Linked DNA regions of Homo sapiens. The protein of the gene in region 1 interacts with the protein of each later gene in a biochemical or structural test. Each region holds a gene or a part of one and is shown in the gene's direction. Other genes may lie near its edges.

Region 1 (8,517 bases):
GACGATCTGGGGTCAGGAGGGAGGTGCAGCCCTCTCCTTACAATTCATCACCTGAACAAAGACACTCGACCTTCTGCAGAGGGTCAGGGCTATCCCCTGGTTGGTGACCTTTGCACAGCTCACTGTGGGACCTGAGAGCTGGCTAAAATCTCAGGGAAAGGAGCATAGCCCTAGGCCCCAGGCCCCAACCCTATTCTCAGTAGGTTATCTCAGATACTCTGCTTGTCCACAGAGCTAAGTCCAGTAGTAGCAAAGCCCCAAATCAAAGCCAGCAAGACCACAGTCACAGGAGATAAGGACTCTGTGAACCTGACCTGCTCCACAAATGACACTGGAATCTCCATCCGTTGGTTCTTCAAAAACCAGAGTCTCCCGTCCTCGGAGAGGATGAAGCTGTCCCAGGGCAACACCACCCTCAGCATAAACCCTGTCAAGAGGGAGGATGCTGGGACGTATTGGTGTGAGGTCTTCAACCCAATCAGTAAGAACCAAAGCGACCCCATCATGCTGAACGTAAACTGTAAGTGACTCCTCACCCCTTCCTATATGTCCCTCTAGGATTACTCTGTCAATGGTGTGCAAAATGGATAAAACTCACAGGAGGCAGAATATCAATGAAGAGACCATTATAGCAAACAGAATTGCAAAGTGGTTAAGAGCTCAGCTCAGGCCGGGCACAGTGGCTCACGCCTGTAATCCCAGCAGTTTGGGAGGCCAAGGCGGGCGGATCACGAGGGCAGGAGATCGAGACCATCCTGGCTAATATGGTGAAACCCCGTGTCTACTAAAAATACAAAAAAAAATTAGCCGGGCATGGTGGCGGGCGCCTGTAGTCCCAGCTACTCGGGAGGCTGAGGCGGGAGAATGGCGTGAACCTGGGAGGCGGAGCTTTCAGTGAGCCGAGATGGTGCCACTGCACTCCAGTCTAGGCAACAGAGCAAGACTCTGTCTCAAAAAAAAAAAAAAAAAAAGAGCTCAGGCTCTGAATCAAATATACATATACTTAGTTGGTTTTTTTTGGTTGGTTGGGTTTTTTTGTTTGTTTTGTTGTTTTGAGACAGGGTCTCACTCTGTCACCCAGGCTGGAGTGCTGTGGTGTGATCAAAGCTCACTCCCGCCTCAATCCCCTGGGTTCAAGCAATCCTGCCACCTCAGCCTCCAGAGTAGCTGGGACTACAGGTTGCACCACCATGCCTGGCTAAGTTTTTAAGTTTTTTTGTAGAGTTGGGGTTTCACTGTGTTGCCCAGGCTGGTCTCAATCTCCTGGTCTCAGCCTCGGCCTCCCAAAGTGCTGGGATTACAGGAATGAGCCACTCTGCCCACCCCGTATTTAACTATTCTAAGTACCTCTCATACAGATGGAAGCATGCAATATTTGTCCTTTTGTGTCTGGCTTACTTCATTTAGCACAATGTCTTCAAGCTCCATCTATGTTGTAGAATGTATCAGAATTTCATTCCTTTTGGAGACTGAATAATATTATGCTGTGTAGATAGATACATCACATTTTGCTTATCCACTCATCCATCTATGGACAGTTAGGTTGCTTCCACCTTTTGGCTATTATGAATAATGCTATTACAAACATGGGTATACAAATATCTGTTCAAATCCCTGCTTTCAGTTCTTTTAAATAGATACTCAGAAGTGGAATTGCTGGATCAAATGGTAATCCTGTTTAATTTTGAAGAACCATCATACCATTTTCCACAGTGGCTATACCATTTCACATTCCCACCAGCAATGCACTAGAGTTCCAATTTCTCTACATCTTCAAAAACATTTGTTGCTTTCTGGTTTTGTTTTGTTTTTTATAATGGCCATCCTAATGGTTATAAGGTGGTATATCATTGGAGTTTTGATTTGCACTTCCCTAATGATTAGCAATATTTAGCATCTTTTCATGTGCTTATTTGCCATTTATCTTCTTTGGAGAAATGTTTATTCAAGTCCTTTGCCCATGTTTTAATTAGGTTGTTTGGGGATTTTTGGTTGAGTTGCAGTAGTTCTTTATATATTTTGGATATTAATCCCTTATCAGATATATGATTCTCAAATATTTTCTCCCATTCTATAAGAAGTCTTTTCACTTTTGTGATAATGTGCTTTGATACACAAAAGCTTTTAATTTTCATTAAGTCCAATTTCTCTACTTCTTCTTTCGTTGCCTATGCTTTTAGTGTCATAGCCAAGAAATCATTGCCAAATTCAATGTTCCAAAGTTTTCACTCTATCTTCCAAGAGCTTTATAGTTTTAGCTCTTACATTTAGGTCTTTTATGCATTTTGAATTAATTTTTATATATGGTGTTACATAAAGGTTCAATTTCATTCTTTTGCATGGATATCCAGTTTCTTCAATGCCATTTGTTGAAAAGACTATCCTTTCCCCACTGAATGATCTTGGCACCCTTGTCAAAAAACATTTGGCTATGTATGCAAACATTTCTTTCTGGGCTCTATATTTTATTCCACTGGTTTCTATTTCTTTTTGCCAGTACCATACTGTTTTGATTACTGTAGCTTTTGGATTTTGTTTGTTTGTTTTATTGTTGTTGTTTGGGTTTTTTTGTTTTGTTTTGTTTTTTTGCTTTTCTTTGTAGAGATGGCGTTTCACCATGTTGCCAAGGCTGGTCTCAAACTCCTGAGCTCAAGCAATCCACCCGCCTCCACCTCCCAAAGTGCTAAGATTACAGGTGTGATGATTACCATAGCTTTGTAAAAAATTTTGAAACCAGGAAGTGTGAGCCCTTCAACTTTGTTCTTTTTCAAGATTGCTTTGGCTATCCATGGTCCCTTCAGAGTCTATATAAATTTTAGAATGAATTTTTCTATTTCTGCAAAAAATATTACTGGAATTTTGATAGAGATTGCACTGAATCTGTAGATCACTTTGGGTAGTACTGTCATCTTAACAATATTAAGTCTTCTAATCCATGAAAATGGGGTGTCTTTTCAATTTATGTCTTATTTAATTTCTTTTGGCAATGTTTTGTATTTTCAGGGTACAAATCTTTCACCTCTTTGGTTAAGTTTATTTCTAAGTATTTTTAAAGCTCTTATAAATAGAATTTTTTTCTTAATTTTCCTTTGAATTGTTATTAGTATACAAAAATACAACTGATTTTTGCATGTGGATTTTGTATCCTGCCACTTTGCTAAATTTATTATTCTAACAGTTTTTTTGTGGAATCTCTAGGGTTTTCTATATATAAGTTAGTGTATTCTGCAAACAGGTATAATTTTACTTCTTTCCAATCTAGATGCTTTTTTTTTCTTGCCTAATTGTTCTGTCTAGGTCTTCCAATACTACATTGAATAGAAATGGCAAAAGCAGGCATCCTTGTCTTGTTCTTGATCTTAAAGGAAAAGTTTTCAATCTTTCACCATTGACTATGATGGTAGCTGGGGGTTTTCACATGTAGCATTTATTATGTTGAGAATTTCCTTCTATTCCTAGTTTCAGTGTTTTTTAGCATGAAAGAATGTTGAATTTTGTCAAATGCTTTTATCGACTCATTTTCATTACTGGTTATAGGTCTATTCAGATTTTCTATTTATTCATGATTCTATCATGGCAGGTTTTGTGTTTCTAGGAATTTGTTCATTTCATCCAGGTTATCCAATTTGTTGGCATTCAATTACTCATAGTACTCTTATAATCCTTATTATTTCTGCAGAATTAGTAGTAATGTTTTACTTTCATTTCTGACTTTAGTAATTTGAATCTTCTTTCTTTCTTAGTCAATCTAATTAACAGTTGTCAATTATAGTGATCTTTTTTGAAGAACAACTTTTTTTTTTCGGTTTGAGACAGGTTCTCACTCTGTCACCGAGGCTGATCATGGCTCACCACAGCCTCAACTTCCCGGGTTCAAGCAATCCTCCTGCTTCAGCCTCCTGGGTAGCTGAAACTACAGACAAGCACTACCACCTCCGGCTAATTTTTGTAATTTTTTGTAGAGACAGGGTTTCACCATCTTGCCCAGCTGGTCTCAAATTCCTGAGCTCAAGTGATACACCTGCCTCAGCCTCCCAAATTGCTGGGATTACAGTCATACACCACTGTACCTGGCCTACAGTTATAAATTTCTTTCTTGCACAAGATTCTTAACTACTCTGAGCCTCGGATTCCTCAACCGAAAATTGCACTGTGAATGCCTGCTCCATAGTATTGCACGGGTTTGGGGTTTTTGTTTTGTTTTTGAGACAGGGTGTCACTCTGTCACCCAGACTGGAGTGCAGTGGTGCAAACACAGCTCACTGCAGCCTCAACCTCCTGGGCTCAAGCAATTCCCTCACCTTAGCCTCCTAAGTAGTACATACTACCACATCTGGCTAATTTATTTTTATTTTTGTTTTCAGAGAGACAGAATCTCACCATGTTACCCAGGCTGGACTCGAACTCCTGGGCTCAAGCAATCCTCCCATCTGTTTCCCAAAGTGCTGAGATTACAGGTGTGAGCCACCACGCCTGGCCCCATAGTGTTATTTTAAAGATTTAATGTAATAATAAACCTTCAGCAAAACACCACACACAGAGGAAATGTTTCATAAATGTTAGCTGCTATTACTACTACTATTATCATTAGCCTTGAAATCAGGTAGTCCTAGGGTCAAATCTCAGATCCACCTCTCACTAGCCATCTGACTTTAGGTAAGCCTTTTACCACTCTAAGCTTCCATTTTTTCATGTTTAAAATGGAAATAATGTCTACCTGACAGCACTATTTTATGGATCAAATAAGATACATGTAAAGCATTTAGCAGCACAGGGCCTGGCACACAGGAAGTACTCCACAAAAGTAGCTAACATAGCATTAGTCACCAGCCTGAGTTGACTGGTGAGGGTTAAGCCCCAAATAGTTGCAACAGATATAAACAAGAAATAGGCTAGACACAGTGGCTCACACCTGTAATCCCAACATTTGGGAGGCCGAGGCTGGAGGATCTCTTGAGCCCAGGAATCCAAGACCAGCCTAGGCAATATAGTGGAACCCTATCTCTACAAAAATTATTTTTTTTTAATTAGCCAGGTGGGTGGGCGTGGTGGCTCACGCCTGTAATCCCAACACTTTGGGAGGTTGAGGCAGGCGGGTCACCTGAGGTCGGGAGTTCAAGACCAGCCTGACCAGGATGGAGAAACCCCGTCTCTACTAAAAATACAAAATTAGCCAGGCGTGGTGGCGCATGCCTGTAATCCCAGCAATTCAGGAGGCTGAGGTAGGAGAATCGCTTGAACCTGGGAGGCAGAGGTTGCAGTGAGCCGAGATCACGCCATTGCACTCTAGCCTAGGCAACAAGAGCAAAACTCGGTCTCAAAAAAAAAAAAAAGAAAGAAAAAAATTAGCCAGGTGTGGTGGCATGTGCTTATAGTCTCAGCTACTGAGGAGACTGAGGTGGGAGGATCACTTGATCCCAAGAGGCTACAATGAGCCATGATTGTGCCACTGCACTCCAGCCTGGGTGATAGAGTGAGAACCTGCCTCAAAAAAAAAAAAAAAAAAAAAGAAGAAGAAGAAATAGATGCAAAAGGTATTATTTATATATTATATATATATATATATATATATATGGAGGGAGAAGCATTATACAAGAAACCCACTGGGACATGGCTATGATCAAATATGGGAAAGGGGGAAAAAAGGAGGTAAAGCAAAGTCTCAAGCCTGGTATGTTAGTTTCCATCTACTGAGATACAGTGAAGATGGGATTAAACATACGAGATAATTTATTGGGGAAAATGCCTGTGAGGGAAAGTAAGGCGAGAGTGAGAGGAACCTCAGACCATGATGCAGATCTGATTCCTGTGGAAGAGAAAGAGAGGAAGGAAGTTTTAGATTGAAGTGCAGTTTTTGTTTGTTTGTTTTTTGAGACAGAGTCTCACTCTGTTGCCCAGGCTTGAGTGCAGTAGTGTGATCTCGGCTCACTGAAACCTCTGCCCCCCGGGTTCAAGCGATTCTCCTGCCTCAGCCTCTCAAGTAGCTGGGATTATAGGCACCTGCCACCGCACCCAGCTAAATTTTGTATTTTTAGTAGAGATAGGGTTTCACCATCTTGGCCAGGCTGGTCTTGAACTCCTGACCTCGTGATCCACCCGCCTCAGCCTCCCAAAGTTCTGGGATTACAGGCGTCAGCCACCGCGCCCGGCCTGCAGTGCAGTTCTAAGAGCATTTCTGCAAGGCTGACAGGGAGTCCTCCAGCCATTCACACTTCAGAATAAAACAGTCACACAAAACTGGGCTAGCTTTCATACCCCTGCTGGGAGCCTGTGGGAAGCCAGTTCTCTATGCAAAAGAGGTGGTGAATTCAGAATGCACCAACTGCCACAACTGAGACACTGAGAAAAAGATGCAACCACGAAAAAGGTGGAAAGTTCTAATCACATACAAAATAGCAATCAGCCTTTCTCATATTTCAAAGCCTTAAAAATGGCTGAGCGCAGAAAAGCCAGGGTGGAATTGGCAGAAGAGAGATCATCAACCTAGAAACATGGTGACTGGGGTTGGGCGCAGTGGCTCACGCCTATAATCCAAGCACTTTGGGAGGCCGAGGCAGGCGGATCATGAGGTCAGGAGTTCAAGACCAGTCTGACCAATATGGTGAAACCCCGTCTCTACTAAAAAAATACAGAAATTAGCCAGGTGTGGTGGCACGTGCCTGTAGTCCAGCCTGAGGCAGGAGAATCGCTTGAACCTGGGAGGCGGAGGTTGCAGTGAGCCAAGATCATGCTACTGCACTCCAGCCTGAGAGACAGAGCAAGACTCTGTCTCAAAAAAAAAAAAGAAAAGAAAAAAAGAAACATGGTGATTGAAAAAAAAAAATTGCAAGGATATAGTTAGCTAATCACCTTCCAGCAACCTTCCCACAACGAAACTGTATTCCTTGAAGGAACAATTAGAAACTACTTCATTCTGAGAGTTGTTTCCCAGCCCCCATTGTAAAATAATTTCACTTTCATTTCTTCTCCTCTTTTCTCTCCATGACAGATAATGCTCTACCACAAGAAAATGGCCTCTCACCTGGGGCCATTGCTGGCATTGTGATTGGAGTAGTGGCCCTGGTTGCTCTGATAGCAGTAGCCCTGGCATGTTTTCTGCATTTCGGGAAGACCGGCAGGTATGATGGCCTTTCCTCTTGTTCTGTTTCCTCCAAGGCTGACTGCCATGCTTGGGAGAGGGAAAGAATTCTTTGCCTGTCTCTGGGCCTGGATCTCATACTCCTCCCACTAAACTCCTGCTTCTCGGCACTAATTCCCACAGGTTTCCTCTTCCCTGGTCTTCGTGCTCCCTGTCTCCCATTATCTCTTGGACATGGGTATTCCAATCCCCATCTAATCTAGAGGAAGAGACTCAAGTATGTTCCTCTGTCCCCTAGTCAGGGAAAGCAAGGTCTAAGAAGGAAAACAAATGAAAAAATGAAAGAAGCAGCAGGAGAAAGCAAGTCATGTGCTCTGTTGACCACATTGGAAGAGGAGGGAGAAATAGCATAGGAAGAGAACCTAAGAGAAAGCAAAAACAACCAAAGTCCTCTTGAACAATAAATAGAGAAAAAAAAAAAAGTATCTACCCCGGAAAACAAAATGGGAAAGGTTTTAAGGATAGAAGTAGGCACAGAAGCAGCTGATAAAGAATGAAATGAAATGTGAACATCCAGCAAACAGGAAAAGAGTAAACACTAGAAGGGATTGTAGTTAGACTGAAGAACGAGGCCCTCAGAAGAAAGGCAGTATGAACATCAAGGACTCTAAGGAATTACCTGCTCACAGTGTCCTTCCTAACTTACGGAACAAAGATCCTGTGCTTGGGAATAGCAGTCACAGTTTCTGATATTTATTTAGGGCAAGCGACCAGCGTGATCTCACAGAGCACAAACCCTCAGTCTCCAACCACAGTAAGTAAAGCCACTTACCCCAGTGAGAACTGGTATGTTCCACCACGTGCCCTCCCCTGGCAGGGAATCCTGGATTCCCAAACCACTCCCTCCCTTCTGAATTTTCACAGAAAGGATCTCTATTTCCCAACCCTAAGGTGGCATAGGTCTTCCCACCCTTCCTAGCCACAGGAGTCCCCTGAGACACATCTGAGGAGAGAGGCTCACTCTGCCTAGGCCAGGCAGGCCTGAGGAAGATCCCATGTTTCCAGGAGCCATTTCCTCAGCCTTACTCCTTCCGCCTCCTGCCTCTATTACGGATGTGGGCACTCTCCCTTGGTGAGACTTTCCTTATCTTGTGGGTGCTGTGGGTGCTACAAGTCTCAATGCCCCTCCTTGCCACTGGAGCATGTTGCTGAGAAACACATCTGGGCAAAAATCAAGGCCTTGTGAACTGGTAGAACTCTTCACAAGTGGATTGTGGCCTCCTGTGGTTCTGCCCCTGCCCCCTCTCTGGTACTAACATGCTGGGTCTGGACCATACACTCTGAGGGAAGTAAATTCCTTAACTGATCCTTAAACTCCCCACCCTCCAACTGCCACCTCCTTCAGCTAGAATCACCTGAAGTCAGCTTTGCATTTCCAT
Region 2 (7,853 bases), on another chromosome or scaffold:
GGATTAGGCTCTTCCTTTGGAAGGGAGGAACCTCAAAGAATTTCTGGCCGTATTTTAAACCCACCATAGTCTGACAGCAATGTTTATTAGAAGACATTCTCTTATAATGCTGGTGTTACTTACAGAATCAATACGTGACTCACATATGCTCACTCAGGCTTTGCTTGTATGGAAGCATCAGTTTCTGCAGAGTGTAATGTGGCTGTGCATACCAATCAGGCAGGCAGGTGGGAAGCAGAAGAAGGTGGAGGAGACACAGCCAGGGACAGGATGGTGTACTGCTCTGTTGTGGTGGGGGAGAAAGGGAGGCCAGCAGAGACCTGTCCTTTTCTGGCTGAATAAGACTTTTGCCAGTTCTAGTTCCATTATCTCTGAGAACTATTTGTTAAGCTTATTCAGACTGCAATGAACTATATTCTTTACTCAGAGGGACAACGATTATCTCAAAGTAAGTCATAAAAGCTGCAGAAAAAAATTAATTTAAATTAATGTTAGTTTTAAAATTCAATATATTCCACACGGCACTTCTAGCAGGTAGTAGAGAAGGGTTTTAAATAAAGTAATAGAAGTTGGGTTTTGCAGTTCCTAGATGGTGGAAGATCACGGAATGAATATCTACCCTTGCATAAGCCTTTCTTCCTCTTGCCCTCCCTGCCATTGTTAGGGCTACTTGTAGCCCCTAAATTTTCCAGAAACTGAAAGTGAGATGAGATGGGCTCCTTTTCCAGCTCCATCACTCCCTGAGTCTCTGAGAAGCTTGAGAATGAGAGCCTGGTCTGTAGCTGTCCAGTAAACATCTGCTAGCTTATCTGCCCCTAAATGTGCCCAAAGGGAGGAGGGCCAGATGTGTTAATGAACATTTACTTGTTCTTCTTTATATGAATACAAGCTCTTGGTCCCTCCTTTCTTATTCAAGGAAGGAGATTGTACAGCAGACCTCACGAACTATCTGCAGTCTCATATGGTATCCATCTGTGCCTAAGGAAGACTGCTTGTGATTAAGACTTTTGACCTAAATAGTAGGTCTCTGCCCATGTCTGCAGTATAATCATCTTTCCTCGTTTGGCATTTTGAATGTGTAGCTTTTTTTGTTTTTTTTGCATGACATTTTTTTTGACGTTACATTGGATGTGTAGTTAACTTTTCCTGGTTGGTTGTACTCGTAGGATCTCTATGACGCTGGAGTGAAGAGGAAAGGAACTGATGTTCCCAAGTGGATCAGCATCATGACCGAGCGGAGCGTGCCCCACCTCCAGAAAGGTGGGCACTGTGCTGAGGGAGTCTCAGTGCCTTGGGGCCCTGGCTGGGGCGGCTGGGTGGATGTCCATGTTGGGATGGAGTCTGCCAGAATGAGGTTCTGTCTCCGCTTGGCACTCTCATAGGCTCACCCATTTTCCCTCACCTTTCTCTCCCATTCTGGATTCTTTTCTCTTGCAAATAGTTTCTGCATTTGGTGCTTTATTCTGCAGCTCCTTCTTGTTTGATGATCATTTGGTCTTGCCATTATTTGTTGAAGTAGTGGACTTTGGTGCATGCTCTGTACTGTTTCCTATGGTTTTCGGATGGAATGGGTTCCACTCAGGGGAGATAGAGATGGTCCAAATATGTGGCCTGGGCAGTGCCATTCAGGACAGGTGGTATGGCTGTTCCACGACAAACTTGGCCAATGTTGGCTCTGGTCACCGTGGTAACCTCTAAGCTCCTAGGATGCTGTGATCATCCTCAATTTTTAAAAAAATTATGGTGCATAAAACTAGGTGGGTGATCGTTGACAGCTTTGACTAGTGGCTCGGATCTGATAACTCTTTGTTGTTTTTCCTCAGTATTTGATAGGTACAAGAGTTACAGCCCTTATGACATGTTGGAAAGCATCAGGAAAGAGGTTAAAGGAGACCTGGAAAATGCTTTCCTGAACCTGGGTAAGTGAATGTGGCCCCCATTCCTGGTAGACATCAGCTACCAGAGCAGAAGTGACAGATGGCCATCCTGTTAATCCAAATGTGTTTGGGAGGTGTGGCTTCTATGCATGCTTTGGATAGTTTTACAGTCTTAATTGTATAGATTTCAGAATATAAAACTGAAGAAAGGCCTAACTTGGTAACAGATTGTTGCCAGGGAGGAGTAAGAGAACAGGAGGAGAGAGGGGTGTGTTGTGGAAACTCACGTATGCACTTGGGTTCTGCAGGCCTCAGAGACCCCTGGTTTAAAACCGTGGTGGAACTTAGTATTGCAGAGGATTTCTAGATTTCCCTTAGCCTGTCCTATTTTGCAGCCCTTTTCCATTGCATTAGGTCACTTCTGGTTTGTGGCCCAGGGCCAGGGCATCCTCTCTCATTGGTAGAGGAGAGACCAGAGCAGCTGCAGCGCTGACTCCCTTTCTTCTCTCCACAGTTCAGTGCATTCAGAACAAGCCCCTGTATTTTGCTGATCGGCTGTATGACTCCATGAAGGTAAGGGCAGCTGGCTGAGAGAGCTGTGTTTCCACACTCAGCTTTTCTTCTTTTGGGTCCCAAATTGAGTCTCCTTGATTCATGGATGGAGGAAGGGGACCCCACTGTGTGGATGCAGGAACACACTAGTCAGCTGTGGTTGTATGTGACAGCTGAGAGAACCACAAATCTGTCTTCTTTCTCTCAGCTGCTTGAACATGTATTTGCGTACAGACAAAAAGTAAAGTGCCATGGGAGAGAGAAAATGCGACATGGTAGTCGTGTCTGATCCCTGCTTAGGTTTCTCCGTGATTTCTTCCTGTTACTGCCAGAGTCAAGACAAGCGAGGAAGGGAGCGATTATTAAGCACCCACTATACAGTGGACAAGTGCTACTATTTTACCTTAAATCATTGCATAACAACCTCTGAGGCTTATGATTATCTTCTTTATAAATGCAGAGATGGAGCTCAGAATACCTCAGCCTGCTTGAAGTTACACAGACAGATTTGAACCTGGGTCTATCAGACCCCAAAGACAGCCCCACAACCCTTCCCTAAACGAACCACCTCTTCCCGTAGACCCATCCCATTTTCTACACCTCAAGTGTGCCATGTGTTTTCTGGCTTCTAGGCTTTTGCATTTTCCTTCTGGAACATCTCCCTTGTCTGTGCTGCCTCTGCCATCTGTCTTTGAGTTCCATATCAAATAGCACCCCTTGGTGCCTTCGCTCTGATGCTCTGGAAGTAAACTCAGTGGTCTTTATTGCACATATCATTAGAAATGGCACAGAGCGATGATAGAAATGTGTTGGCATGTTCCCTCTAAGCCTGCAAGAGTCAGGAACCTCTTGTTACATATGGAGACTCAGACTGCTTGAACTGAGCCTTGCAGTAGTAGGTGCTCAGTATATATTTATTGAATGGTGGCATAGAGTGGGAGTCTGTGCTGACTACAGCCTGGTGTGTTTGGAATTCCCAGATGCTCTTCTTTCTTTTCTTTTCTTGTCTTGTCTTTTTTTTTCTTTCTTTTTTCCTCCCTCCCTCCCTGCCTTCCCCTGCCTCCCTGCCTTCCCCTCCCTCCCTGCCTTCCCCTCCCTCCCTGCCTTCCCCTCCCTCCCTGCCTTCCCCTCCCTCCCTGCCTTCCCCTGCCTCCCTGCCTTCCCCTCCCTCCCTGCCTTCCCCTGCCTCCCTGCCTTCCCCTCCCTCCCTGCCTTCCCCTGCCTCCCTGCCTTCCCCTCCCTCCCTGCCTTCCCCTGCCTCCCTGCCTTCCCCTGCCTCCCTGCCTTCCCCTGCCTCCCTGCCTTCCCCTGCCTCCCTGCCTTCTCCTGCCTCCTTGCCTTCCCCTGCCTCCCTGCCTTCACCTCCCTCCCTTTCCTTCCCCTCCCTCCCTTTCCTTCCTTTCCCTTTCCCTTTCTTCTCTCTTTCTCTCTCCTTCCTTCCTTCCCTTTTTCTTTCTTTCTCTCTTTCTTTCTCTCTCTCTCTCTGTCTTTCCCTCTCTCTCTCTGTCTTTCCTTTCTTATAGGTTTTTGGGAAACAAGTAGTGTTCGGTTACATGAATAAGTTCTTTCGTGGTGATTTTTGAGATTTTGGTGTACTTATCACCCAGGCAGTGTACACTGTGCCCTAATATCCCTTATCCAAAATGCTTGGGACCAGGAATGTTTTATATCTCAGATTTATTTTTGATTTTGTAATATTTGCATATATATGATGAAATATTTTAGGGATGGGACCCAAGTCTAAACTTGAGATTCATTTATGTTTTATATAGACCTTACACACATAGCCTAAAGGTAATTTTATACAACGCTTTTGATAATTTTGTGCATGAAACAGTTTGTGTTAAGTGCTGTATGTGGAATTTTTCATTGTGGCATCATGTCGGCACTGAAAAAGTTTTGGATTTTGGAGCATTTTAGATTTCAGATTTTCAGATCAGGGATGCTCAACCTGTAGACGCTTTCTTTAACGATAACATTCTCAGCGAATGTAACAAATATCAACTTGATTTTCAGGGCAAGGGGACGCGAGATAAGGTCCTGATCAGAATCATGGTCTCCCGCAGTGAAGTGGACATGTTGAAAATTAGGTCTGAATTCAAGAGAAAGTACGGCAAGTCCCTGTACTATTATATCCAGGTAAGCCCGAGGTGCAGTGTCAGCCTGCCCTGCCGTCCAGAGCACCCCGGGCCCTGGCAGGTGGCCTGGCAGAATGATGACAGAGTGGCGATTTTCTGTTTTCTGACTCTCTGGGGAAGAGATGCTAGTCATCAACTATCAGGGATTTATTTTGAAAGCACCATTTGTGATTTGTCCTGGACTTTGTACAATCAGGCAGATGTTTTATATTTTTCACATCTGTTACTCTACAATGATCATCGGTGTTCATGACGATGATCCTGCAAGGCTTGCTGACATCCCGAAGAGGCTTGGAAGATCAGTTACATTTTACTTTTTTTTTTTTTTTTGAGACGGAGTCTTGCTCTCTCGCCCAGGCTGGAGTGCAGTGGCCACAATCTCGGCTCACTGCAACCTCCGACTTCTGGGTTCACACCATTTTCCTGCCTCAGCCTCCCAAGTAGCTAGGACTACAGGCGCCCGCCACCACACCCGGCTAATTTTTTTGTATTTTTAGTAGAGACAGGGTTTCACCGTGTTAGCCAGGATGGTCTCGATCTCCTGACCTCGTGATCCGCCCGCCTCGGCCTCCCAAAGTGCTGGGATGACAGGCGTGAGCCACTGCGCCCGGCCACATTTTACTTTTATTATGCATTGGTTCCTTGAAAAATCCTCTGGGATAGGCCTAACAACTTTCAGTTATTCAGAACTCCCATCTCTCCAATCAGTTTAGCATCTGTCTGTTTTGATGTGATGTCGCATTTGCAGTAAGGAAGTGATGGCATTCACAGTGGTACCACTGTGTAGATTTCAGACAGCCCTTGCAATTCCCCTTTCTAGAAGTTCCTCAGATGTCCAAAGGCATGCCCATGGTTAGCAAGGATAAAGTTAGAGCTGGATTTTTTGTAGCCAGGTTTATTAGGGCACATGTTTAAAGTCAAAGGACCAGTTAGACTCTTAGTAATTGTTCCTCACCTCACCAGCTTATTTCCACTTGACCTTAATAATGCAGGAAATAGGAGAGTGAGCTAGGAAAGTACCCTGTTTTCTGTGGAAAGACGAGGACGAGAGAGGAAAGTTAGGGTGTTTGTAGGACCTTGCTGCAGTAAGAACAGCCCTGGTCACTAACCTATGTCAATCCTCAGCACCTTGCACTCCCTCCACCCCACAGTCCTAAGGAGCCTTGAGTGTCTTCCCCAGCACCTCCTCCGACCACACTCCTGGAGGCTTCCCTGGCAATGGTTTGGGTGTGGCCTTCCAGGCCTTTGTATCAGGGCAGGTCTCCTGCAGAGTCTTCTCTTTGTCATGGGAGAAGCTTCATTGTGCGTTGAGGCTACTTCTGTGTTATTGAGGAGTCTGGGCTTTTTTCTGATACCACGTTTCTTTTCTTTCCTGGGCCATTGTAGCAAGACACTAAGGGCGACTACCAGAAAGCGCTGCTGTACCTGTGTGGTGGAGATGACTGAAGCCCGACACGGCCTGAGCGTCCAGAAATGGTGCTCACCATGCTTCCAGCTAACAGGTCTAGAAAACCAGCTTGCGAATAACAGTCCCCGTGGCCATCCCTGTGAGGGTGACGTTAGCATTACCCCCAACCTCATTTTAGTTGCCTAAGCATTGCCTGGCCTTCCTGTCTAGTCTCTCCTGTAAGCCAAAGAAATGAACATTCCAAGGAGTTGGAAGTGAAGTCTATGATGTGAAACACTTTGCCTCCTGTGTACTGTGTCATAAACAGATGAATAAACTGAATTTGTACTTTAGAAACACGTACTTTGTGGCCCTGCTTTCAACTGAATTGTTTGAAAATTAAACGTGCTTGGGGTTCAGCTGGTGAGGCTGTCCCTGTAGGAAGAAAGCTCTGGGACTGAGCTGTACAGTATGGTTGCCCCTATCCAAGTGTCGCTATTTAAGTTAAATTTAAATGAAATAAAATAAAATAAAATCAGTTCCTGAGTCACACAATCCACATTTCGAATGCTCAGCTTTCACATGTGGTCAGCAGCTAGTATATCTGGACAGCGCAGGCAGGGAACATTTCGATAGAAAGTTCTGTTGGGCAGCAGTACATGCCCAGGGCATGAGAGGACCTATGGGGGAGAAAAAGGGTCCCAGAGGGACCCCTTATCTGCTTATCTTTCTACAGGTTAATTAGGTGAAAATAAGCATCAGGGGCAGCCACAAACTGGAGAGAGCAGTGGGGCAGGGTGGGGCAGGCTACAGCATTCTGGCAAAGGAGATCCAACACAAGCCGATGGGAAGCACGGAGAAGGGATTTCTTTTGACTGGGAGGATTGAGAAAGATGATAGAGAAAAGGAACAATTTGAGCTGCACACTAAAATCTAAGGTGAGGTTTTACAGCTGGGAGAAAGCACTCCATGCAGGTTCTTAAGGGTCTGGGAATGAATGACAGGTCGCTGATACAATGGTACACATGTCAAAAAGTTCAGAGACTTCTTTCTGTACAGGGAAAGTTATGTCTCTCCCTTACTAGCCAGTGGCCTTCCCTGGAGTCGCCTGGTTTCCAGTACATTTTCATGGATAGACTGCATACGCATGTATATATATGTATCTATCTGTGTTCATAAATGTGAAGGTGCTGTCCCCAGGCTGCTGGTACTGGGTTCTGCAGATTCCTTTTTATACAAGTGCTCCCCATAAGCAGGGTAGAGGGCTGGGAGTGAGGGGAAGTTGACTACTCCTCCTAACCCTTCTCCTTAGTGGAGGGTGTGTCAACTACTCATTTTTGGCACCTGGCTGATGCAGGGCCCACTCAGTCATCTGCAGGGACTAGGTAGGTAATGGAAATGAATGTATGAAATGGGCAGGTTGGACAGAAGTGGGGAATCTGGGGAAAATGGGGAATGCCTGCCTTGCTTGAGGCATTCAAATTCAATTCAAACAACAGTCGTAACAACATGGCATTGACCAAACCAAATACATCCGTGAGCTGATTGGCTGCTATTTTGGCCCTTTGGCAAACTTTAGATGGAAATTTGGATCGAGCATGGCTCTTGGGTCACTAGTGGCCCATAACGTATGTGAAAGGCCCCTGAGATAGTCCTTAAAAAGCAGGTTATGCAAAAATCAGGTATTTTATCAAATGTGTCCTGCCTATACATATTAAAATGGATGCCCCAAATCACAGAATATACTGTTCTGTGTGCTTGGGCAGAGTTCAAGGAACTGCCTAAGAAGCAGGACCTTTCTCATTAACCCCAAATTATACTGAACTCAGAATTGATAGGGCTGGGCAGAGACTGTCAGGAGCAGTGTTTCAGATCAGTGAACATTTAGGCATTGTTACC

Evidence for each region.
Region 2: the proteins of CEACAM1 (region 1) and ANXA2 form a complex in vitro, tested with the Homo sapiens proteins (one study listed by BioGRID).

The regions. Positions count from the first base shown.
Region 1 is NC_000019.10:42,510,951-42,519,467, reverse strand, and holds part of CEACAM1 (cell adhesion molecule CEACAM1 isoform 1 precursor), read left to right. Parts: intron 1-232; coding exon 233-520; intron 521-4,364; coding exon of another isoform or gene 4,365-4,457; intron 4,458-6,988; coding exon 6,989-7,118; intron 7,119-7,839; coding exon 7,840-7,892; intron 7,893-8,517.
Region 2 is NC_000015.10:60,345,790-60,353,642, reverse strand, and holds the end of ANXA2 (annexin A2), read left to right. Parts: intron 1-1,166; coding exon 1,167-1,260; intron 1,261-1,823; coding exon 1,824-1,919; intron 1,920-2,391; coding exon 2,392-2,450; intron 2,451-4,445; coding exon 4,446-4,568; intron 4,569-5,953; coding exon 5,954-6,013; 3' UTR 6,014-6,492; downstream 6,493-7,853. UniProt on the Homo sapiens protein: Calcium-regulated membrane-binding protein whose affinity for calcium is greatly enhanced by anionic phospholipids. It binds two calcium ions with high affinity. May be involved in heat-stress response.